7 linked regions of the Homo sapiens genome follow. The protein of the gene in region 6 interacts with the protein of the main gene of each other region in a pairwise test. Each region holds a gene or a part of one and is shown on either strand. Other genes may lie near its edges.

What was found.
Region 1: the proteins of ZNF526 (region 6) and SPANXN2 interact in binary tests that used the Homo sapiens proteins (3 or more experiments, as listed by UniProt).
Region 2: the proteins of ZNF526 (region 6) and ZFP91 interact in binary tests that used the Homo sapiens proteins (3 or more experiments, as listed by UniProt).
Region 3: the proteins of ZNF526 (region 6) and OVOL2 interact in binary tests that used the Homo sapiens proteins (3 or more experiments, as listed by UniProt).
Region 4: the proteins of ZNF526 (region 6) and PBK interact in binary tests that used the Homo sapiens proteins (3 or more experiments, as listed by UniProt).
Region 5: the proteins of ZNF526 (region 6) and U2AF2 interact in binary tests that used the Homo sapiens proteins (3 or more experiments, as listed by UniProt).
Region 7: the proteins of ZNF526 (region 6) and YJU2 interact in binary tests that used the Homo sapiens proteins (3 or more experiments, as listed by UniProt).

Annotation. Positions count from the first base shown.
Region 1 is NC_000023.11:143,714,604-143,717,752, forward strand, and holds part of SPANXN2 (sperm protein associated with the nucleus on the X chromosome N2), read right to left. Parts: intron 1-3,149.
Region 2 is NC_000011.10:58,585,563-58,589,062, forward strand, and holds part of ZFP91 (E3 ubiquitin-protein ligase ZFP91), read left to right. Parts: intron 1-3,500. UniProt on the Homo sapiens protein: Atypical E3 ubiquitin-protein ligase that mediates 'Lys-63'-linked ubiquitination of MAP3K14/NIK, leading to stabilize and activate MAP3K14/NIK. It thereby acts as an activator of the non-canonical NF-kappa-B2/NFKB2 pathway.
Region 3 is NC_000020.11:18,051,417-18,054,916, forward strand, and holds part of OVOL2 (transcription factor Ovo-like 2), read right to left. Parts: intron 1-3,500. UniProt on the Homo sapiens protein: Zinc-finger transcription repressor factor. Plays a critical role in maintaining the identity of epithelial lineages by suppressing epithelial-to mesenchymal transition (EMT) mainly through the repression of ZEB1, an EMT inducer.
Region 4 is NC_000008.11:27,809,124-27,811,470, forward strand, and holds the end of PBK (lymphokine-activated killer T-cell-originated protein kinase), read right to left. Parts: exon of another isoform or gene 2,045-2,347; coding exon of another isoform or gene 2,012-2,044; coding exon 1,835-2,011; exon of another isoform or gene 1,379-1,834; coding exon 1,182-1,378; 3' UTR 501-1,181; downstream 1-500. UniProt on the Homo sapiens protein: Phosphorylates MAP kinase p38. Seems to be active only in mitosis. May also play a role in the activation of lymphoid cells.
Region 5 is NC_000019.10:55,658,035-55,661,534, forward strand, and holds part of U2AF2 (splicing factor U2AF 65 kDa subunit), read left to right. Parts: intron 1-827; exon of another isoform or gene 828-947; intron 948-1,175; coding exon 1,176-1,311; intron 1,312-2,142; coding exon 2,143-2,187; intron 2,188-2,481; coding exon 2,482-2,585; intron 2,586-3,003; coding exon 3,004-3,155; intron 3,156-3,500. UniProt on the Homo sapiens protein: Plays a role in pre-mRNA splicing and 3'-end processing. By recruiting PRPF19 and the PRP19C/Prp19 complex/NTC/Nineteen complex to the RNA polymerase II C-terminal domain (CTD), and thereby pre-mRNA, may couple transcription to splicing.
Region 6 is NC_000019.10:42,226,007-42,228,701, reverse strand, and holds the end of ZNF526 (zinc finger protein 526), read right to left. Parts: coding exon 2,286-2,695; 3' UTR 501-2,285; downstream 1-500. UniProt on the Homo sapiens protein: May be involved in transcriptional regulation.
Region 7 is NC_000019.10:4,250,080-4,253,579, reverse strand, and holds part of YJU2 (splicing factor YJU2), read right to left. Parts: intron 2,554-3,500; coding exon 2,409-2,553; intron 1-2,408.

The sequences.
Region 1 (3,149 bases), on a different chromosome or scaffold from region 6:
AAATAAAGCTGTCCCTGCTCGTTTCCTCTCCTGCCTTTCAAAAGTCACAACTAAATATGCCACCTTAAGCCCTAATACCAATAAGGGCAAAAACTACCTCCATTTATACTTTATCTCCCAGTCAGACCCAGACATTTGAAAAAAACTTAAAAAACTGGAGGGTGGCCCTCAAACCTTCCAAAGAGACTTAATCAAAGTGGCCTTCAAGATCTATAAGATTAGAGAGGAAGAACTAAAAAATCCAAACCTAAAGAAGGACCAGGCTAAATACCAAATGCTGGTAGCTGCCACTCAACAGGGTTCCCAAGGCCTACAGAATTCCTCAACTTGGCAACAGTCAACTCCAGGAGCCTGTTACAAGTTCGTCTAACAGGGACACTGGGCAAAAGCCTAGCCTAATCCCAGGACACTCTGGAAATCTTGCCCCATCTGTGGTATCAAGCAACACTGGAAGTCAGACTGTGCTCACTGAAACTCTTCATCCTGCTTCACCACCTGTACCTGAAGACAGGTGGGGCCTGGAGTCCACCGCCCCTACTGCCATCACCACCTCGGAACCCAGGGTAATTCTGTCAGTCTCTAGTAAGCCCATGTCTTTCCTATTGGATACTCAATAGGACAACTAGTTACTCAGTTTGACCAGAATATTCTAGACCCTTTTTCTGTTCTTCGATCTCTATTGTGAGAATCAATAAAATCCCCTCTAGGCACAGACTGGTCCTTTATTATACAACCTATTCAGCAGCCCCCTTCACCCACTCTTTCCTGGTTATCCCTCAGTCCCCTACCCCTATCTTGGGATGGGACATATTAAGTAAATTCCAGAACTCCATGCAATGTGGCTCCTACAATTCTACCCCTTTTATTTTACTCTGACACCCAAACGCTTCCCTCTCCCCCCACTCATCCTCATTATCCACCCTGTTACCTTCTGTTAATTCTAAAGCTTGGAATGTTTCTAAACCCACAATAGCCACACATCACATCCCAGTTAAAATAACCCTTCAAAACCCCTCCATTTTCCTTCATCAGTCTCAATATCCCCTTAATCCAGCCTTGCTTAGGGGGTCTCAAACCTATTATCTGTAAACTTTTACAAGCTCATATTCTCAAGCCTGTTAACTCTCCCCACAACACCCCTATTCTGGCTTTCCAAAAGACAGACGGGACTTACCCCTTTGTCTAGGATCTCCAAGTCGTTAACCAGGCCGTGGTACCAATCCATCTAGTGGTCCTCAACCAATATACTCTACTCTACCGTATTGCCCCATCTACCACACACTCCTTTGTATTGAACTAAAAGACAACTATTTCACTATTCCCTTAAATCTGGCTTACCAAAGTCTTTTTGCTTTGACTTGGTCAAATCCTAATACTCACATGTCCTGTACTCTTACAGGACTTACACATGGACTTACACCTAGACTGTACTCTTAGAGGGGTTCCGGGATAGGCCCCACCTGTTCAGACAGGCCCTCATCAAGGACCTAGCTGAACTTCCCCTTGCTCCTAGTACCCTCCTCCAGTATGTCAATGACCTCCTTCTCTGTAGCCCCTTTCTTAACCTGTCCATTCAACACACCACTCAGGTTTTAAACTTCCTTCATAATCAAGTATATTGGGCCTAACCCACAAAATCTCAGGTACCCAAATCAAAGTTACTTACCTTGGGTTTGTTCTAACCCCTAATTCTCGAGCCATCCCAACCCAATGAAAGGAGCCAATTTGGGACATGCCCCTTCCCCACATAAAAAAAAAGGACCTCCCCTCCTTCTTGGGCCTTGTGGGATACTTCTGGCTGTGAATTCCTAACTTTGACTTGCTGGCCAAGCCACTATACGTAGCCTCACATGGGCCCATCCTAAAACCCCTGAACCCAGCTTGCCCCATCAACTCCAACTTAAAAACTTAAAAATGCCCTTTTAATGGCCCTGGCACTGGGACTGCCAAACCTCACCAAGCCTGTTACTTTCTATGTACATTCTGACCAGCGCCTTGCCCTTGGACTACTCTGCCAAACATATGGCAACGCCCCAGAAGCCATTGCACGCCTCTCAAAACAACTGGACTCTGTCATCCGAGGCTGGTCACTCTGACTAAAAATCTTGGGTATGGCCACATTGCTGGCCTTAGATGCACGGAAACTCCCTCTCTACCAACACATTACTATTGCATCTTCCCATTATCTACAGGACCTCATAAACCACCAATCCCTTCTATCCCTCCCACCATCCTGCTTACAGCAGGTGCATGCCTTATTCATAGGTAACCCTCTAATCACCTTCCAGAGACATAAAATTCTCTACCCAGCCACCCTTCTCCCTGTAAACACTTCCGACTCTAAGCTCTCTCACTCCTGTCTGGACCTCTTAGACTCCCTCTCCTCCCCCTTCCAACACATTTCAGATGCCCCTTTGCAGGGAACACATACACGGTTAGTTAATGGAACCTCTTTTAGGCAGCCATGTCCAGCAGCTGGCTATTCCATCAGTGCTGAAGATAAACTCCTAGAATCGAATGCTCTCACACCCCATGCTACCTCTCAACAGGCAAAGCTAGTTGCCCTAACCAGGGCCCTCACCCTAGCAAAGGGAAAGAGGGTCAACATTTACACCCATTCCAAATATGCATACCATGTCCTACAGTCTCATGCCTTCATCTGGCAGGAACAGGGTTTCCTAACTACAAAAGGAACCCCCATAAGAAATGGCAAACTTACACATAAGCTGTTGGGGGTGGATAAACCACCACCAAAGGCCACCATTATCCATTGCAAGGGACACCGAAAGGCTACAGATGCCAAAACCGAGAAAAACCTTTCAACAAATTCGGCAGCCTGGCAGGCAGCCCTTAAAACCCCATCGTTATTGCTCATTTTTTTTCCCAGCATACACCCTGTATATACCCAGCAGGAAAAAAACCCACTTGCCCAGGCTGGTGCCATTCAGGAAAAAATAGTTCGATCTCACTGATAAAGTGTCTTGCCCAAGTTTAAAAAACCTTCTGTACTTTCATATGTGCACAACCATTTCCATGCCGGTTACTGCCCCTACTCCAGCTTTTAAAAACTTCTAGACATTCTTCCACCATGGTTGCCCATCTCAGAGATATTACTAAGGCATGTTCCCTTTGCACTCAAACTTCCCCTC
Region 2 (3,500 bases), on a different chromosome or scaffold from region 6:
ATACTTTTAGGCACATTTCTTTTATTACGTGTGACCTTGACCCAGGCTTGACACAGCCAGTTTCCAAACTCCTAGAATCCACCTAGTATCCATAGCTTTTAAGGTCTGCTTATAGCCTGCTACTATTTCTATAAAAGAATATATGTATATGCATTTTATATATCAGTGTATGTATTACATGTACATGAGAATCTTAAGGTTTTTCTGTTCTTGATAAATAATTCTTCGAGAACGTATAAGGCAAGTTTAAAGCCTGGATTTTGTGCCATATGGAAGAATGATAGTGTAATTTAAGAACCAATAACTTGCATTGGTGGTGGCTGCTTTGTAAATAATTAGGTTTCAATGCTAAGGTTTCTTATTTCTCTGAATTTTGGAATGTGAGTCTAATATTTCATAGTATAGCAGGCAGAGGTTTTTCATACCTGGCATTTTTTTTTTTTTATTTAGAAACCTTGGCATGATTATTTTGTCTAGCAAGTTTTTTGTTCCTGTTGTTGTTACTTAGAAAATAGGTTATGTCTGCCAAAAATGGAAGGTCTCACATTTCTTATTCAGAGATCAATTTGGAGATTTTATGATGTGGAGAAAATATAGAGACAGGTAACAAGTCTAGAGCATTCTGATTAAAACAAAAAGCAACCTGCTTTTGTCAGAGCTGAAATTACCTTACGTGTCCAAAGAAATCACTATGGGTTGCCTTGAGGCGAACTTGAAGAAAGGTGGAAATTTGGAGCCCCTTTTGGAGAGAAAAGTAGATGACCTTTGGGTAGACGTCTTTTTTTTGTTTGTTGAGTAAAGACAGGGTTTAGCCAGGCTGGATTCGAGCTCCTGGCCTCAAGTGATCCGCCTGCCTCGTGTGTAAATGTTTTAAACTAGAAGTTGACTTATTGGCATGTTTTGTGGTTGTGCAGCTGTGGAGAGATTAAAACTACATTCTGGATAATTTGATCCGAAGATCAATCCCACTTTACTGTTTAAAGGCCCTGGATCTAGATATTCTCAAATGCCAATCTTCATCTCTGTTAGTTTACCCATTAAGGTAGCTGTTCAACTCTATGAACAGTAGATAGGTATATAAGAACTGTAACATTCATACAAGATGAATGAATAAAGAAATGGAGGCTCGGGTAGTCACTTTTTCCTGTTGTGTTTCGTATTTAGAATTCACCTTAATTACTTTTCTTCTGGTCATTTAACTTCTCAGTTATTCTGGTACTCTGGAATAGTCCTCATGTTCAGTCTGCTAAATTTTAACTGAAATAACTCATGTTCATTTCAGAAGTTAAGGGTTTTTCAAAACTTTAAACAGGTTTTATTTTTTAGAGGTAAGACTGGCCTTCTGTTATATTAATGCTGAAAAGATATCTTCAGGATTGTTTTTACTCTTATTTACTCAAACCATCTAGAAATTGTATGCCTTCTTTGAGTTGAAGAGAAGAACCTTTGACATACACATAAACAATATTGCACACACAGAGTAGGCAACTTTCCATTAATTTGCAAAGCTGCAAATTAAGTTGCAAAGTTGCAACTTAAAAAAAAAGTTAAGTTGCAAAGTGCTACATTCATTTTTTTCAAACTGAAATAATAAACATGAGTATTAGTTCCTGTTTTTGCTACCCTTTTTTAACCGTGATTGGTGTATAAAACAAATGGAAAGCTACTATGCTAAAATAGTGTTAATTCATTCAACAGGTAATTGTTGAGCATCCACTATGTGTCTGGCGCTATTCTAGGCACTGGATTCTACTGGTAATCAAATAAATGAAGAAGTCAAAACAGTGTAATAATGTTTGATGAAGTTGGAGCTGAGAAAGCTAAGTTTAGATGAAATGATAAGGGAAGACCTTTTGGTGGAGGTGACATTTGAGATTACACCTGAATATGCAGATAGTTAATTTGGACAAGGAACATTCCACACAAAAGTTAAAAAGGAAAAATTACTTCAAACTTGAAAGCTTAGTTTACCACTGGCAGAGGATTATCTTCATGATTGTGGAGTTTCCAAGAGTGTTAGTAGAAATCTTAAGGGATGGAGATCTAGTTCCTTTTTAACTTGGCTTTATGTTTTCATTGTTTCTCTGTTTTGAACCAGTGTTGTACTTTGATTATAAAGTAAAAGAATAGTCTACCTACACGTAATTTTTAGTTATCCCAGTGTTCATTTTAACTTATTTCACTTTCTAACCTCTGACTAGACATGTTATGAAGCCTAATTTTTTTTTCTCCCATCTGTTATGTCCTTAGTGAGGAATAATAGTTAAAACTGCCTCTCAAGATAAAACATAAAAATGGAGACCAGAATACCTTAATGTTTATTAAAGTATGTTTTAAATGTTTAATGGAATGATAATAAATACTGTAGAATCAAGTAGATGTGGGCAGTGCTTCAGTTATTAATGTTAGATAGGTTATTTATTGCAGAACTTCTCAGAAACTTTGATTTTTGAGTAATGTGCAGTGTAAATACCAAAATTTTGCAGCGATTACCTAACCTATTTGACTTATAAGACCCCCTTTTTAAAGAGCATTTCGTAAAACTGGAGTTTACAGAAAACATACTTGGAAATACTGCATGCTTGAAAATTTGATTGTATAAAACTCTGGATCTCAACCTTTTATTCAAAATCATTTTACTCTTTTCAGTTGCTCTTATGAAATAGTGATGTTTGACAGTGATTACTGTGAGTCTCTAACTTGTGTAGTCAGGAAAAAAGAAGTCAGTCATCAGATAAATTCATAACAGATCTCAGCATTTACTTAGATTATTTGGAGCTTAACTGTTAAGTATTTACCTTACCTAGTTTATCATAATCAGCATACTATCTGTAATTATTACTAAAGTATTAGTTTATTTTGATTATTTTTCCTCCTGTCTGGATGACATCCTCAGTTTTTTTCTTATATTGATACAGTCTAATTTATAGCTTATGCCTCTGTGCTCCATGTTTTAAAATTAGAATTAATTTGTTATTAACAGTTTTCATAGATTTCAACAGTTTTATTTTTCATGTATTGAAATATCTTTGATTATCGTATCCTCTCAAATCAGTCTCTTGTATCCCATTCATCTTGGCCTCTTGTCAACTTGCAACCTCAATATAACATTGACTGTTTTTACTTCCTTTACAGATGTGTCTGTTTTATAGTATACTTTTTTGTTGGTTTTTCTTTCTTTCTAGTATATTTAAAGAATATTTTTATTATTTCTAAAAATACAGAAGACACATTTTTATGCTTTTTTTCCCATTCCAGTGAGAAAAATCTAACTTGTAATTCTTACCATTTGAGTTTGTGTACAAAAGGAAGAATCGAGAAGATACTGAGAACATTGTCTTCACAATTCTTTCTTGAAAGATTTTGAATCTCCTTGCTAATGACCTAGTTTTCCCAGTCAAAATAAAATCTTTTAGGTTTTGAATAGAAAAAGAGTTCTGGAAGGAAAATCTGTAGGTGAGAAAGGGCGTGTATAAGCCCAGTCTTAACACTCAGATAGG
Region 3 (3,500 bases), on a different chromosome or scaffold from region 6:
ATAAACAGAGGACAGAATTAGATTATTGCTGTTTTAGAACACCTAATAAGCCAAAATATTTAGGTCCTGAGCATCAACAGCTGCTAACATCAGAAAAAGAGAGATAACCAAATATTCAGTGCCTCTGATGAAGACAGATGCCCCACAGTGTGACATATTCTAGCTGAAATAAAATAGAGCTGACCAAGCAGGGAGAGTTGCATTATCCAATAGAACTTTTTGTGGTGACAGAAAAATTATATTCTGTACTGTCCAGTACATTAGCCTCTGGTCACACATGGCTACTAGCATTTGAAATGTCGCTAGTAGGACTGAAGAACTTAACTGTTATTTTGAGACAGGGTCTCGCTCTGTTGTCCAGGCTGGAGTGCAGTGGTGCAATCTTGGCTCACTGCAATCTCCACCTCCTGGGTTCAAGCGATTCTCCTGCCTCAGCATCCTGAGTAGCCTGAATTACAGGTGCATGCCACCAAGCCCTACTAATTTTTTTTGTATTTTTTTTTAATAGAGTCGGGGTTTCAACATGTTGGCCAGGCTGGTCTTGAACTCCTGACCTCAGGTGATCCGCCCGCCTCGGCCTCCCAAAGTGCTGGGATTACAGGCATGAGCTATGGCGCCTGGTCTAATTGTTAATTCTTAATTGACTATGGCTGTGATAGTCACATGTGATACTGGATGCTGCAGCTGCAGATCCAACTATCCGTTTAGAGAAAACCTAGGGGACTGAGAAACATTAGGCACATGGTGATGCGCTCAGCAAAATCCAGACTGTTGGGGACTCTACAAAACAAATCACCCATTTCTTCAACAATTAACTTGATGGAGGGAAAATGTATGAAATTAAAAGAGGCTCAAAAGACATGCCAATCAATTACAATGTGTGGACATTATGTGGACCTGATTAAGCAAACTGGAGGGGAAAAGTATTAATTTATGAGACAATTAGTAATGTGAACACAATTGGTAATGTGGGTGTGATCATGAATTTTGGTCTTTATCCACTAAACGCACATTCTGAACTATTTATGGTTGAAATGGTATGATGTCCTAGATTTGCTTCAGAATCATGCATGGGGCAAGGGGTGGGAGTGTGGCTGGGCAGGACTGGCCATGGGTTAATGGTTGTTGGGGCTGGGTGGCAGATACGTATGACTATGCCTTTGAGATTGTAAATAATACAAAGTGATGGGGGTATGGGGACTACTCCGTAGACACACATCTGCACCACTACAAGACTCGATAGAGAGCCGGGTAAAAGGCCAAGCATACTTTTGAAAGAATCTAAACTTAATTTATTTTGAAGAACCCATGGGAGAGGACAAAAAGAAAGAACAGAATAGGAAAGGGTGAGAGGACAAATTCACTTGGTACTCCATACTTGGACCTGGGTCCTACCAGCCAGAGAATCACGTATGAATACTATCAGCCAACTTCAGAGTTACTTACTTTCTAATAAGCCTCCAAAGGACAATGGTGATTAGTATTTCCTGGGTTTCTCTACCCCGCAGCTGAAGACCTGCAGATGGATCCAGCACAAAAGGGACCTGCCATGCACACTCTCTGGAATGTACATCATCTTCTCACCCTTATTTGTTTGGCAAATTACAGAATTCTCAGTAGTAAAGAGACAATTTCACAATCTGCCCTGAGGCACACCGTCAAAAGGCAGGTAGGCTGGGAAGGGCCAGCCACATTTCCTAATCTGCACCTCGGACTCCTTTTCCAGATCCACCCATCAACACGATCAAGTTAGTGAATCCCATGTCCTTACAGCCAACAAAATGTTGGGCATTAAAACTTGCTGTATGTCACTGTCAGCTAACTTCCTCTTGGGCAGTTTACACATGCACAGAAAGCTAAACACTTTACACCCACTATCTCATTTAATCTATGCAACTCTTCTAGGAGGCTGATTCTTTGAGTCCTCCACTTTACAGATCAAGGAACTGAGGCTCAGAAGAGATAATGATCCATGAACACAGCCGTTAAGAGGGACCCAAATGGCAGGGCGCGGTGGCTCACACCTGTAATCCCAGCACTTTGGGAGGCCAAGGTGGGCAGATCACCTGAGGTCAGGAGTTCAAGACCAGCCTGGACAACATGGCGAAACTTCGTCTCTATTAAAAATACAAAAATCAGCCAGGCTTTGTGGTAGGTGCCTGTAATCCCAGCTACTTGGGAGGCTGAGGCAGGAGAATCACTTGAACCTGGGAGGCAGAGTTTGCAGTGAGCTGAGATTGCGCAACTGTACTCCAGCTCCAGGCGACAGAGAGAGACTCTGTCTCAAAAAAAAAAAAAAAAAAGAGGAACCCGATTGAGGTTTTCCTTCTTACATCATCCAGAGCTTCTCCTCTGCCCAGCAGGAGCACCCATATTTCTTGGCTTGGCCCCTTCACCATCTCACCCTGTCCTGGTTACATTTCCAGCTCTTTACCGCCAACTCTCTCCCTGACCCCAGCAAGCCCTGTTTCCTATCTTCAGCCACCAGAGCTTCATCCTTTCTATGCTCCAGCTGCGGGACTCAGCCCACACTGCCCTCAGGCCCACCCGCCTCCCTTCTCCCCAGCCTTCAAATCCACATCAGGACACTTTCCCCACTCAAATCGGTCACGTCTTTGTTTGGAATTCTGGTTTCACATTCACTGTCCTGCAGCAGAGTTAATAATGTTTGTGTCTCCCTATTAACCTGAATACTATCTATGGTTATTGGGCACATACCATGTTCTACCCTCCACTCATTTATCCTCACGATGCTATCAAGTAGGTATCATTATCATCTTACAGATAAGGAAACCGAGGCTCAGAGGGGTGAGCCACTTGCTCAAGGTCCACAGCTAAGAAGTGACAAAGCCAGAGCTTATATGATTAACCGCTACTGCCAGATGATTCTGGAAGGAACACCAGGGTGGGAGCATTTTTACCTCCTGCTGCCTTGCACACCCCAGGTGTTAGACGGGCAGAGTGTTGCTTCTCTGTGCCAGGCAATAGCTCAAACCTGCCCTTCTTGTGGTCCTGGGAGCCCACTGCCTAAGAAACTAATTCTTGGCTGGATGCGGTGGCTCACGCCTGTAATCCCAGCACTTTGGGAGGCTGAGGCAGGCGGATCACCTGAGGTCGGGAGTTCAAGACCAGGCTGACCAACATGGAGAAACCCTGTCTCTACTAAAATTACAAAATTAGCCGGCGATGGTGGCGTATGCCTGTAATCCCAGCTGCTCGGAAGGCTGAGGCAGGAGAATCACTTGAACCCGGGAGGCAGAGGTTGCAGTGAGCTAAGATCCAGCCATTGCACTCAGCTAAGATCCAGCCATTGCACTCCAGCCTGGGCAACAACAGCGAAACTCCATCTCAAAAAAAAAAAAAAAAGAAAGAAAAGAAAAGAAAAGAAAAGAAACTAATTCTTAGAGAAATTGTGAGTTCAGCATGCCTTGGAAAGAACTTTATAATTATACAACGTGCTAAGTCACAGGCAATTTGGTCAGTCATTTGAAAACTGCCAA
Region 4 (2,347 bases), on a different chromosome or scaffold from region 6:
GCTCTGTTGGCTTGGCAAAGAAGAGTGACACATGTCAGAGTGAGGATAAGAGACCCTATTGAGTATCAGGATGCAAAATTATACATACGTTTTTCTACAAATTAAGACAACTTCCAATTTACTTGTCACATTATTTTGATGGAATATATGCAAATTAATGTTGTGTCCTATTGCTTGGTACAATCTTATACCAAAAGGCCTTCAGTGATTTCTAGGCATTTTTAAAGTTCAGAGTGCAGTTGTTCCTAATGTTTCTGAGAACGCCCTGTGTCGGTAATTTTTAAAATTCTGTCTACACCCAAATGTAGGTATACCACCTACATTGGCAATTCAGTAATTTGGAAAATTCCCAGGGGACTGTGGCTTACAGAAACTACTGATCCAAAACACTTTATAGATTAGCAAAATAAGGCCAAGAGAGGGAAAGAAACCTCACATTTACTCAAGTTTAATGACAACACTCAAATCAATGAAGTATAAAATAATGCTGAGACACCTTCTGGTACCCAAAGTGTCCTTTATTCTTTATCATCCTATTTGAGTTTTATTGTTTTTACACAGCTGGGAAATGCTTAAGGTACAAATTAATAAATTTTAAACTCAGTATGGAAAATACATTTAATAAATTAAAGCAAAAACCAAAGATCTGAGGAGATCCAAGAGATCAAGACAATCTGTAACCAGAGTCTGAAGTATCCAAGGAGCTACTCTTTTTGAGGCATATTCTCCTCAGCTTCCAGTTATCATTTGATAAACACATCAGCAAAAGGTTCAGTGTTTTAAACAAATGTAGACTTTATTTTGTACTGTACAAAGTGCTAATGTCAGTAGATCCATTAAAATATAGAATATTTAAGAAAGATCATTAATAAAAGTAATGGTCATTCAATTTAATGTTACAGTTTACAGCGTTTTACTGCTAGTGTTTTAAGTCAGCATGAGCAGTATCAAAGTACTTATGTAGCTAGTTTCTAAAACTTTACAGAAAACCCAGTACAATTCCAAGTGCTTATAGCCAATATAAGCATATTTCATATTAGAAATAGTTATCCATATGTTAACAAGAAACTATGGTCCTCAAATATGCCAATTTTAGAGTCTAATAACTACTGATAGTAACTATGTAAATATTTTGGAATAAACAGTTATTTACGCAAGCCACACTTCAGCTGAGATGATCACTAGACATCTGTTTCCAGAGCTTCAACAATGTGTGCAGCAGAAGGACGATCTTTAGGGTCTTCATTAGTGCATACAGAGAAGAGTTCAATTACTTTCTGGTATGATTCATCCAGTTCTTCCATATTAATAGGTGGCCTAGTTCCCAACGCTGCATAGTATGCTTCATCATCAAAATCACTTTCATCAAAAGTTTTATCTTGAAGGAGTTAGAGATTGAAACAATAAACAAAATCACTTTATGTCATGGAAAAGTTTAATAGCTCACCCTTCTCCTGAAACAAGAATTTATGGTCCAGTATGCTTTCCATTCTGCCACAGACAGAATGGAAATGTCTTCAATTGTCCTGCCATCAAGTAGATTTGCTTTAGTCTTGGATTTATAGGTTATCGACCCCTACTTTTACCCTTCCTGTGATAGTTTTCCAATCAATCATTTTCTCAGGAAAGGGGAGTTTTTAAGATAATGTTTTGCTTCTCTGGATAGCCTCAATTTTTCTCCCTATTCTCAATCTATGTCTCATTTGTGTGAGATTAAACCTTGGTGGTACCAAATCAGTCATCAGTACTAATACATATCTTAGAAAGATAAAATTATATAATCTTTAGTGTGAAATGAAGAGATTGGGATTTATGTTAGAAATTGTATTCATACCTTCATCATCATCATCATTTGAAAGATTAATGTGTGGAATCGATAAAGTCATCATTTCCCACAAAGTAAGGCCAAAGGCAAATATGTCTGCCTTGTCAGTAATAACACCATTCTCCTCCACAGCTTCTTTGGGTTTCCATGGCTCTGTGCCAATGTAACAAGCCTCAGGGTCAGTCACTGAAACAAGCAAGATGGTTATGAAGGCAGGAGCTACAAATCACGAAAAGGCAAGCAACCCAAAGGGAAACAGGCGAACGATTTGAACAAGTAGTTCACAGGTTAATCAGTGTAGCCAGAAAATGTAAAAATACACTCAACCTCAATAAGGATTACTTTCTACCTTTCAGGTTGGTAAATATTCAAGAAGCTGGTCAGTTGGCAGGTATGTAGAGAAACAGCAATTCTCTTACAAATTAGTAGGAATATAGAATGTGGATGTTGAGATTACAGACTCTGGAGCCAGACTGCCTTGCTTGGGTTGGTTCAAAGACATGTGTGTGCAAGCTGCGTGAC
Region 5 (3,500 bases), about 13 Mb from region 6:
GGAATTGTGATGCTTTTCCAGACATTCACATTGCATCGCAAAAACGTGAGACAAAACACTGTGGGTGAGGCTGAAGTTTAACATCCTCCCTCAGTGCCCTTTCCTCCTCTTGTCCCCAGGGATGATCACTCCAGGAGATGCGTGTTAACATATATAAGCACCTTAACGTGTGCATCTGTTTTGTGTGTGTGCTTCATGGCTAGCTGAGAAATCTGGGTGTCTTTGAATTAAGGAAATGGTGTGGCGGTGCTCATGAACCCCCCCGCCCCCCCATGCTCATGGTTTATCCTCCATCTTGAAGGGCCGGTCTCTCTTCAGGGGTTGAAGGGTCTGGTGAGAGCAGAGGTTTCTGTGGTTTTGCCAGTGAGGCTCCGTTCCTAGTGGCTACCTCAGGCAAATAGAGGGTTGAGGGAGCCTGCTGGAGGCTGGCAGAGATACCCGCCCCTACTCACGCCTTTACAGTCTCTTCAGTACTTGGCTTTGAAGGGAGTGAGGCTGAGAGATTCAAGTGGTTTGGGATTCAAGTCTGGATGGGGCAAGCTCCTCCCCTGACCTGCTGAAGGAGAGGAGGGCCTCTTTCCCCTTCAGTCTGCAGATTCTCCGAGGCCCTTCTCTTCCCCTGGGAAGGGTGCTTGCTTCTGCATTATTCACCGGCTTGGGAAGGGATGGGTTGAGTTTCCCTGCTTCCTGGGGATATCAGATCCTGCCTGGCACCTGACCCCTAGTCCTGATGGTGGGGCTGTGGGTGCCAGCTAGTTGCAGAGGTCTTTCCTGAGGGGTCGCTGGGTCCCTTCAGGAAAACATCATTGGGTCTCTTGATTCCCCAGCCTCTAGCCCTGCCCCTCTCAGGGACGACCCTGGGGTCAGGCCCCTCAGCCCTCGAGGGGGACCAGGAGCCAGCCTCCTCTGTCTTCTCTGGCTCCCCAGCTCCTCCTGAGCATCCTCAGGTATCTTACACCCCGGGGGCATTTCCAGGCCCCGTCCCCCTGGTCCCCTCATGGTCCCTGGACTCGCTTGTGGACCCAGGAGGCCTGTTAATTCCCTTCCTCCATTGAATCCCTTCCCTTTGGGGGTGGCCTCCCTGGGGCTTGGGACATAGCCACCAGCGCGCAGGGTGGGCTGGGCCCGCATCCTTACTCCGCTTATCCCGTGCCCCTCCTCTCACCCTTGCCCAGAGCGGGACAAGGAGAACCGGCATCGGAAGCGCAGCCACAGCCGCTCTCGGAGCCGGGACCGCAAACGCCGGAGCCGGAGCCGCGACCGGCGCAACCGGGACCAGCGGAGCGCCTCCCGGGACAGGCGACGACGCAGGTACTAGGGCTCAGGGATCCCCTGGGCCAGCCTGGGAGTCGGGGGGTCGGTGTTGGCCGGCCTGTGGGTGGCCTGTGTGTGTCTGTGTCTGGGTCCGGGCCCTGTGTGGCTCGTTCGTTCTTTGTGTGGATCTGGGGGAGGGATCTACTGCTTGGTCTGTCTTGGATTCCGATTTTTTCCCCCGTTTCTGGGGTTTCTTTCATTTTCTGTCTTGGTGGTTGCTGGTGGGTTGCTGGGGGCAATAGGCTCTTTATCTGGAGCCTGGGAATTGATTCTGTGTTTTCCTTCACAAGGGGTTGTTCTCTGTCTCTGACTCTGAGGGCCTGTTCCTTCTTTTCGACTCTCTGTGGCTCTCTGTGGGACTCTCTTCGAGGGGGTTGGTCTCTGCCTCCAGTTTCTTTCTTCCCTGCCTCCCAGGAGAAGGGAGCTCTTGGGACCGAGGCAGTATCCACAGCCTGGGCTGACTTTTTGGCCCAGGGGTGTCGGTTTCCACCGCCTCTTCCCTTCTAGGCTCCCCTTTCTGTTCTCTGCCTCCTTAGGTGAGGAAGGGCAGGATAGGCGGAAGTCCTCCTGCCTCCTCCCGGCTCAGTTTCTCCAGCTAGAGACTGGTCCTTCCTGGCCCCTGGCCCCTTTCTCCTTTCCTCACTTCCTCTTTCCTGGGGGTGGGAGTGTTTGGGGGGAAATGGCAGGGCCGAGGGTGGCCTGCTTGCTGCTTGTTGACCTCGGCCCTGCTCCCACCCTGGGGCTCAGTGCCCTTGGGGGGGTGTGGCATGTGGGGAAGACGAGGGTCCCCAGTCACCCCTCCCCATACCTTTCCCTCCCACCCCCCAGCAAACCTTTGACCAGAGGCGCTAAAGAGGAGCACGGTGGACTGATGTGAGCTTCTCTTCCTGCCCCTTCCTCCCTGATGTCCACTCCCTTCACCTTCCTCACGCCCGTGCACCCTGTCCCGCCCATTTCCAGCCCTGGCCCAAGCACTGGGAAGAGTCCACTTACCTTGAAACCAGCACCCCTTTCCCAGGCCCTGCCCCAGACCCTCTCCTTCCCTGGAGAGAGTGGAGCTTACATGGTTGCGGGGAGGGTGAAAGGGTGCCTGGGAGGGGGCTCGCAGGCCCACTGTTGGTCAGACTGAGGTTGCCCTGCCCCGCTCTCCCCTCCCACCTCCCCCAGTCGTTCCCCCCGCCACGAGAAGAAGAAGAAGGTCCGTAAATACTGGGACGTGCCACCCCCAGGCTTTGAGCACATCACCCCAATGCAGTACAAGGCCATGCAAGGTAGGCCCCTGGCCAGGCTGCTCCCAGAGCGGGAGGGTACAGGGGTTGGGATTCTCCGTCAGTCATTCCCCTGCGTGTGTGCTTGGAGGGGGTCAAAGACACAGGTAGAGGGTTGCACACCCCTGGGGGTTCTGGTCTCTGCGCTTTTGAAGCCTCCCTAGAGGAGGAAATGACCAGAGACACCCGTGGTTGACAGGGGAATGAGGCCTCCATCTGGACGCCATTAGGAAGTGAGGCTTCTGAGGAGCAGCAGTTACTGGGTGGGGGCCCCGAGGGTGGAAAGAGGGTTCTGGAAGGTGCTAAGACCGAGAGCCTGTAGGAGCTTTCTGCTGAGGAGGGGAACTCCCAGTGTGTGGTGAGGGGTGGTCACTGAGCATTCCCCTGATGGGGTTTTATCCGGCTTTTATTCCCTTTGAAGCTGCGGGTCAGATTCCAGCCACTGCTCTTCTCCCCACCATGACCCCTGACGGTCTGGCTGTGACCCCAACGCCGGTGCCCGTGGTCGGGAGCCAGATGACCAGACAAGCCCGGCGCCTCTACGTGGGCAACATCCCCTTTGGCATCACTGAGGTACTGCCCTCCCCTGCCCCCTACCCTCTCCCTTGTCCCTCTACCCCGTTCCTCCCCTTCCCTCCATTCCCTTTCCCCAACCTGCACGGGTCAGACTCTGCTCCTGCAAGACCCCCCGGCCCCCTCCCAGACGGACCGATGGAGTTGAGCCAGCCAGGGGCCGGGCTGGGGGTGGCCCTCCCTCCCTCCTCTTCCCCTCTCCCGTCTCCCCTCCCCCCAACCTCCTCCAGCAACCCAGGGATCAAGCACACACATAATGTACCCACGTGTTGTACCTACGTGTCGGAGAGAGACAGAGAGGGAGACTTGGACACACACACACACACACACACACACACACACACA
Region 6 (2,695 bases):
GTCTCTACTAAAATACAAAAATTAGCTGGGTGCAGTGGTGGGGGCCTGTAATCCCAGCTATTAGGGAGACTGAGGCAGGAGAATCGCTTGAGCCTGGAAGGTGGAGGTTGCAGTGAGCTGAGACTGCACCACTGTGCTCCAGCCTGGGCAACAGAGCAAGACTCCATCTCAATCAATCAATCAATCAATGGAGAGAAAGACTATTATCCTAGGTAACCTCTGAAAAAGGTGGGAATCTTCCTGCTCTCAAGACCTTTGATGTTTCGAAGCCCCTTCAAATCCCAATAGCTCTGACACTGGTTTACTTTTCCTCTAGTTAGAATGAATCTTCCTCTGATCCCCTACCCCTGCACAAGTTTCAGGTCTTAATCACTCAGAATAGTATGGGTTACAAATGTGGGCCGCAGGGGCCTCCCGTACTCAAATCTCACATCTCTGCCTAGCTGTGAAACCTTGGGCAAATCTCTGTCCTTAGTTTTTTTTTCCTTTTTTTTTTTTTTAAGTGACAGGGTCTTGCACTGTTGCCCAGACTGGAGTGCAGTGGTGTGAACACAGCTCACTGCAGCCTCAATCTCCCTCATATCAAGCAATCCTGCCTCCGCCTCAGCCTCCAGAGTAGCTGGGAATACTGGTGTGCACCACCATGCTCGGCCAATCATTTTTATTTTTAATAGAGACAAAGTCTCTCTCTCTTGCCCAGGTCTTGAATTCTTGAGCTCGAGTGATCCTCCTGCCTCAGCCTCCCAAAGCACTCGGATTACAGGCATGTGCCACCAGGCCTGGCTAACTTTTAAGTTTTGTAGAGATGAGGTCTTGCTGTTGCCCAGGCTGGTCTCGAACTCCTGGCCTTAAGTGATCCTCCTGCCTCAGTCTCCCAAAGCACTGGGATTGCAAGCGTGAGCCACCGCACCTGGCCAGTTTATTTTTATTTTTATTTTCTTTTGAGAGGGAGTCTCACTCTGTCGCCCAGGCTGGAGTGCAGTGGCGCGATCTCGGCTCACTGCAAGCTCCGCCTCCCGGGTTCACGCCATTCTCCTGCCTCAGCCTCCTGAGTAGCTGGCCACCACAGGCGCCCGCCACCACTCCTGGCTAATTTTTTGTATTTTTAGTAGAGACGGGGTTTCACCGTGTTAGCCAGGATGGTCTCGATCTCCTGACCTCGTGATCTGCCCGCCTCGGCCTCCCAAAGTGCTGGGATTACAGGCGTGAGCCACCACGCCCAGCCACCAGTTTTAAAAATCTATACAACAGGGATAATATGAAATCTATGTCACAAGCCTGTTGGGATCATAGTACACATACAGTGGTAAGTGTGGTGCTTGCCTCAGGTAGGCAGTCAGATGAATAACTGGATGGTCTCCAAATACACCAAGAGCTCACCCTCTTGCAGTGCTGTCTGCCTGGAATGTTCTTTTCCTCTTTCACTGCCAGATTCCTACTTTTCCTTCAGGGACTACCTTCTCTAGGAAGTCCTTAACTCCTGATCTCCCACCATGGAGGTCTGTTTCCTGGGATCCCACTGTCCCTGCACATCCCCATCACAGCCCAGAGAAGCCTTAGGCCTGACTCATCTCTGCCCCCAGCATCACCCAGTATGGGAGAAGGGAGGCTTTAGGACACACAGGCTGAATGAATCAATGAGACACACTCAGAGAGCAAGCTATCTGTACTTGTGCGTTTCTCCTACCAGATTGTGCATGCCTCCTGTGGGCAGAGCCTGTGCTGACTTGCTCCTGGGTCTCCAGCATCACCCAGTCTGGAGCTGAGGACCTGGGTACCTACAGATTTCCTTCCACACTGTCAGAATTGAGATGAAGGAAGCCCAGAGAAATCAAGTACCCTCCACCAGGCAGAGCAAAGTCCTGGGTGCCCAAAATCCAGGGAAGGCAAGGGCTGGGGGTACAAGCAGAGGATCTGAAGAGGTATATGAGAGTGGCCAGCACAGACCTGGCATAAGCTTGGTGCTCAGTGAAGGTTACCTGATGTTGCTGGGCACCAGGGTGATGCAGTGCAAAGGGCCTTGGCCAACCCACTTTGCAGCATAGCTGGGTGACCTGGTACAGATCACATCGCATTTCAGAGCTTCAGTTTCCCCTCAGGCAGAGAAAGATGACAAGAGAAGCCTGGAAGGGTTGTTCTGGGGAGTCAGTGGGTAAAAAGAGGCCAGGGTGGATCCTGGCACATGGTGGGTACCAGACCAGTTTGTCAGAGGAGGTCCTCTCTCCCCAGAGGTACCCACACTGGCTGTTGCAACCAAACCCTTTTGTTGTTGCTTTTCAGCTGCGTCACACGAAGGCCGTGTCCAACTGCAAGAGCCCGCCTGCTTCACTGGCCCCCAGTGCAGCCTGGCACAGCTGCAGGGTGTCCTCAAGCGCCAGTGGCTGGGATGTCTCAATGATGGCGATGGTCTCCCCCAGCTCTGTGCACATGATAGTCTGTTGAGGCTCTGGAGGTGGGGGTGGGGCAGGAGATGGTGATCTGGGAGGCTGTAGCGTCAAAGTCCGAGCTCGGGCATGGACCCGCTGATGCAGTCGCAAGCCCGCCATGGCGCGGAACCAGCGGCCACAAGTCCCGCAGTAGTAGGGACTCTTGTTGTAGAGACCAGTGATGGGGAGGCGGGGGGCGCGGGCAAAGGCGACTGGCCGCAAGTGCAACCGCCGGTGCTGCTGCAGGTTGGAGCTCTGTGTGAAGCGCT
Region 7 (3,500 bases), about 38 Mb from region 6:
GGACAGGGTCTCGTGCTGTTGCCCAGGCCGGAGTGCAGCGGCAGGATCATGGCTCACTGCAACCTCAGCCTCCCGGGTTCAAGCAATCCTCTCACCTTAGCCTGCCGAGTAGCTGGGACTACAGGTATGCACCATCACACCTGGCTAATTTTTAAATTTCTTTTTGGTAGAGACAGGGTTTCGCCATGTTGCCCAGGCTGGTCTCTAACTCTTGGACTCAACCGATCCTCCTGCTTTGGCCTCCAAAGTGCCGGGATTACAGGCATGAGCCACTGCACCCAGCCACAGCCTACAATGTTAATGGTAACATTCCACCTTTAGTTTCTTTTTTTAATTAAAATTTGTGTGTGTGTGTGTGTGTGTGTGTGTGTGTGTGTGTGTAGACACGGACAGGGTCTCACTATGTTGCCCAGGCTAGTCTTGAACTTCTGGTCCCCAGCAATCCTCCTGCCTTGCCTTCTCAAAGCGCTGGGAGTAAGCCACCATGCCTGGCCCCACCCTTAGTATCTTACTGTGACAGATGTACCCTGGTTATATAAGATGCTAATATTCGGGGAAGTTGGTGAGGGGGTAGGTGAGAATTATCTGTACTATCTTTGGAACTTTTCTGTAAATCTTCAGGTATTTCAAAAAAAGTTTTTGTTTGTTTTTTTGCAGACAGGGTCTCACTCTGTCACTCAGGCTGGAGTATAGCAGTGAAATCATGGCTCACTGCAGCCTTGGCCTCCCAGACTCAATTGATTCTCCTGCCTCAGCCTCCCAAGTAGCTAGGACTATAGGCGCATGCCATCATGCCCAGCTAATTTTTATATTTTTTTGTACTGACGGGATCTCACTATGTTGCCCAAGCTGGTCTTGAATTCCTGGATTTAAGCGATCCTTCTCCCTTGACCTCTCAAAGTGTTGGGATTACAGGCGTGAGCCACTGCACCCAGCCAAAATATTATTATTATTATTAATTTATTTATTTATTTTTGAGACGGAGTCTCGCTCTGTCGCCCAGGCTGGAGTGCAGTGGCGCGATCTCAGCTCACTGCAAGCTCCGCCTCCTGGGTTCACGCCATTCTCTTGTCTCAGCCTCCCGAGTAGCTGGGACTACAGGCACCCGCCACCACGCCTGGCTAATTTTTTTCTGCTTTTTTTTTAGTAGAGACGGGGTTTCACTGTGTTAGCCAGGATGGTCTCGATCTCCTGACCTCATGATCCGCCTGCCTCAGCCTCCCAAAGTACTGGGATTAGAGGCGTGAGCCACTGCGCCCGGCCTATTTTTGTATTTTTTTTTAGTAGAGTTGGGGTTTCATCATGTTGTCCAGGCTGGTCTCGAACTCCTGACCTCAACTGATCCACTTGCCTTGGCCTCCCAAAGTGCTGATTATAGCTGTGAGCCACTGCGCCCAGCCCAAAATGTTTTTTTAATCAAAGAAAAAAAGCTTATGGCAAAAAAGTATTCAAAGAGTACTTAAGCATAGGAAGAGAAAATTTTAAGTTATCTTCAGTCTTTCCTTAAATTCTCAAGGTAACAAATAAAAGTCAAATTGCAATTTTTATTGGCTGTGTAATATTCCATTGCACGCTACTTTTTTTTTTCTTTTTGAGACAGAGTTTCATTTCGTTGCTCAGGCTGGAGTGCAATGGCGCAATGTTGGCTCACTGCAACCTCTCCCTCTCGGGTTCAAGCGATTCTCCTGCTTTGGTCTCCCAAGTACCTGAGATTACAGGCATGAGCCACCACGCCTGGCTCACTTTTGTATTTTTAGTAGAGACGGGGTTTCACCATGTTGGCCAGGCTGGTCTCAAACTCCTGACCTCAGGGGCTCTCTTTCCTGCCTTGGCCTCCCAACCTGCTGGAATTACAGGCATGAGCCACTGTGCCTGGCTTTTTTTTTTTTTTTTTTTAGTTGGAGTCTTGCTCTGTCACCCAGACTGGAGTATAGCGGTGCAATCTTCGCTCACTGCAACCTCTGCCTCCCAGCTTCAAGTGATTCTCCTGCCTTAGCCTCTCGAGTAACTGGGATTATAGTCCGCCACCATGCCCAGTAATTTTTGTATTTTTAGTAGACATGGCATTTCGCCATGTTGGCTAGGGTGGTCTTGAACTTCTGACCTCAGGTGATCTGCCCGCCTTGGCCGCCCAAAGTGCTGGGAGTACAGGTGTGAGCCATGCCCAGCCTGCATGCTAATTTGTTCTTCTCATCCCTTATTATTATCTATCTAGGTTGCTTCTGTCTTTTTGCCTTTATTTAGAATGCTGCCATGAACATCTCCCCCAAACTGTTGTCTGTTTCTTGGGGATAAACTGAAATGAGATTCCCTGGATGGAGAGGATTGGAGTTAAGGAACCCCAGGGCCCGCCCTGATCTGAGGTGTGCTGGGGGAGAGGGACCGGCCTGGCCGGCCGTCTCACCTACCTTGAAGGTGATCTCTGCCAGGCAGCGCGTGCACTTGATGTAAAAGCGGAAGATGGGCAGGCCCAGGTAGACCTCGTTCTGCACCGTCTCCTTCCGAGCATTGAATTTCTTCCCCTTGTAGATGTATTCTCCGCACGTCTTACACCTGCGGGGCAGCATGTAGGGATGTGAGCTGTCTTGGGACGCTGGCTCCCACTGGCAGGCTGTCCCTGCGGCATCCTGCAAGATCACTGCTTGCTTGCCTCCAGCAACGGGGAGCTCCCTCCTTCAAGAGGCAGGCTGCCCCACCCTGTGTCCAAATTTCCTCTACCTGAGAACTTCGTGTTCTCATTCATATCTTCCTGGGGCTCAGTCCAAGGGTCGCCTGCTTGGGAAGCCCCCTGAGTAGGTGAGGCCTGCCTGTCATGCACTCCCAGAAGCAATCTTTGTGCTTACGGGGCACCCCACCCTCCAGGAGGAAAGATGCCACACAGAAAAATGCTGCCCCACCCCCCTCTTCCCCTCCTACTCCGGGCTCTGCTCCCCAGCCCAGCACGCCCGCCTCCTGTCTGATCCTGCAAACACCCCCAGCTCAGTCCCAGCTCAAGGCCTCTGCTCCTACAGTCTCATGGCCGGCGACACCCTTCATCCTCAGACCTCAGCGCCACCAGTATTTTGCCTGATGTCACCGTACCCCAGCTACCTATAGCCCTCCCTCCTGCGCCACTGCCCCAGGGGCTCTCTCCTGCCTGACTTCGGGGGCCCGTGCACCTGCCTGACTACCACTATTCTCCACTTCCCATTAGACTGTGGGCTCCATGAGGCCAGGGACTTTGTTCCTGGCGCTCGGCACAGACCCTGGCACACAGCAGGTGCCCAATAAATGAGTGTTGAATGAATAAATGAATGAATGAGGGGGAGGAGTAGACAGGCCAACAACACATGGGCATGAACCGAATTTCACTGACCCAGATGTCTCTTTCCTCGTTAGGTGCGTGATTTCAGATATGCTAGAGCATGAAAAGGTATGGGGTTGAGAGTTGGTGAAATACAGTAATTCTGAAGTGCTACAAAAGGCAAGATCTGGGCACCGTGAGGGGATGATGGAGGCCT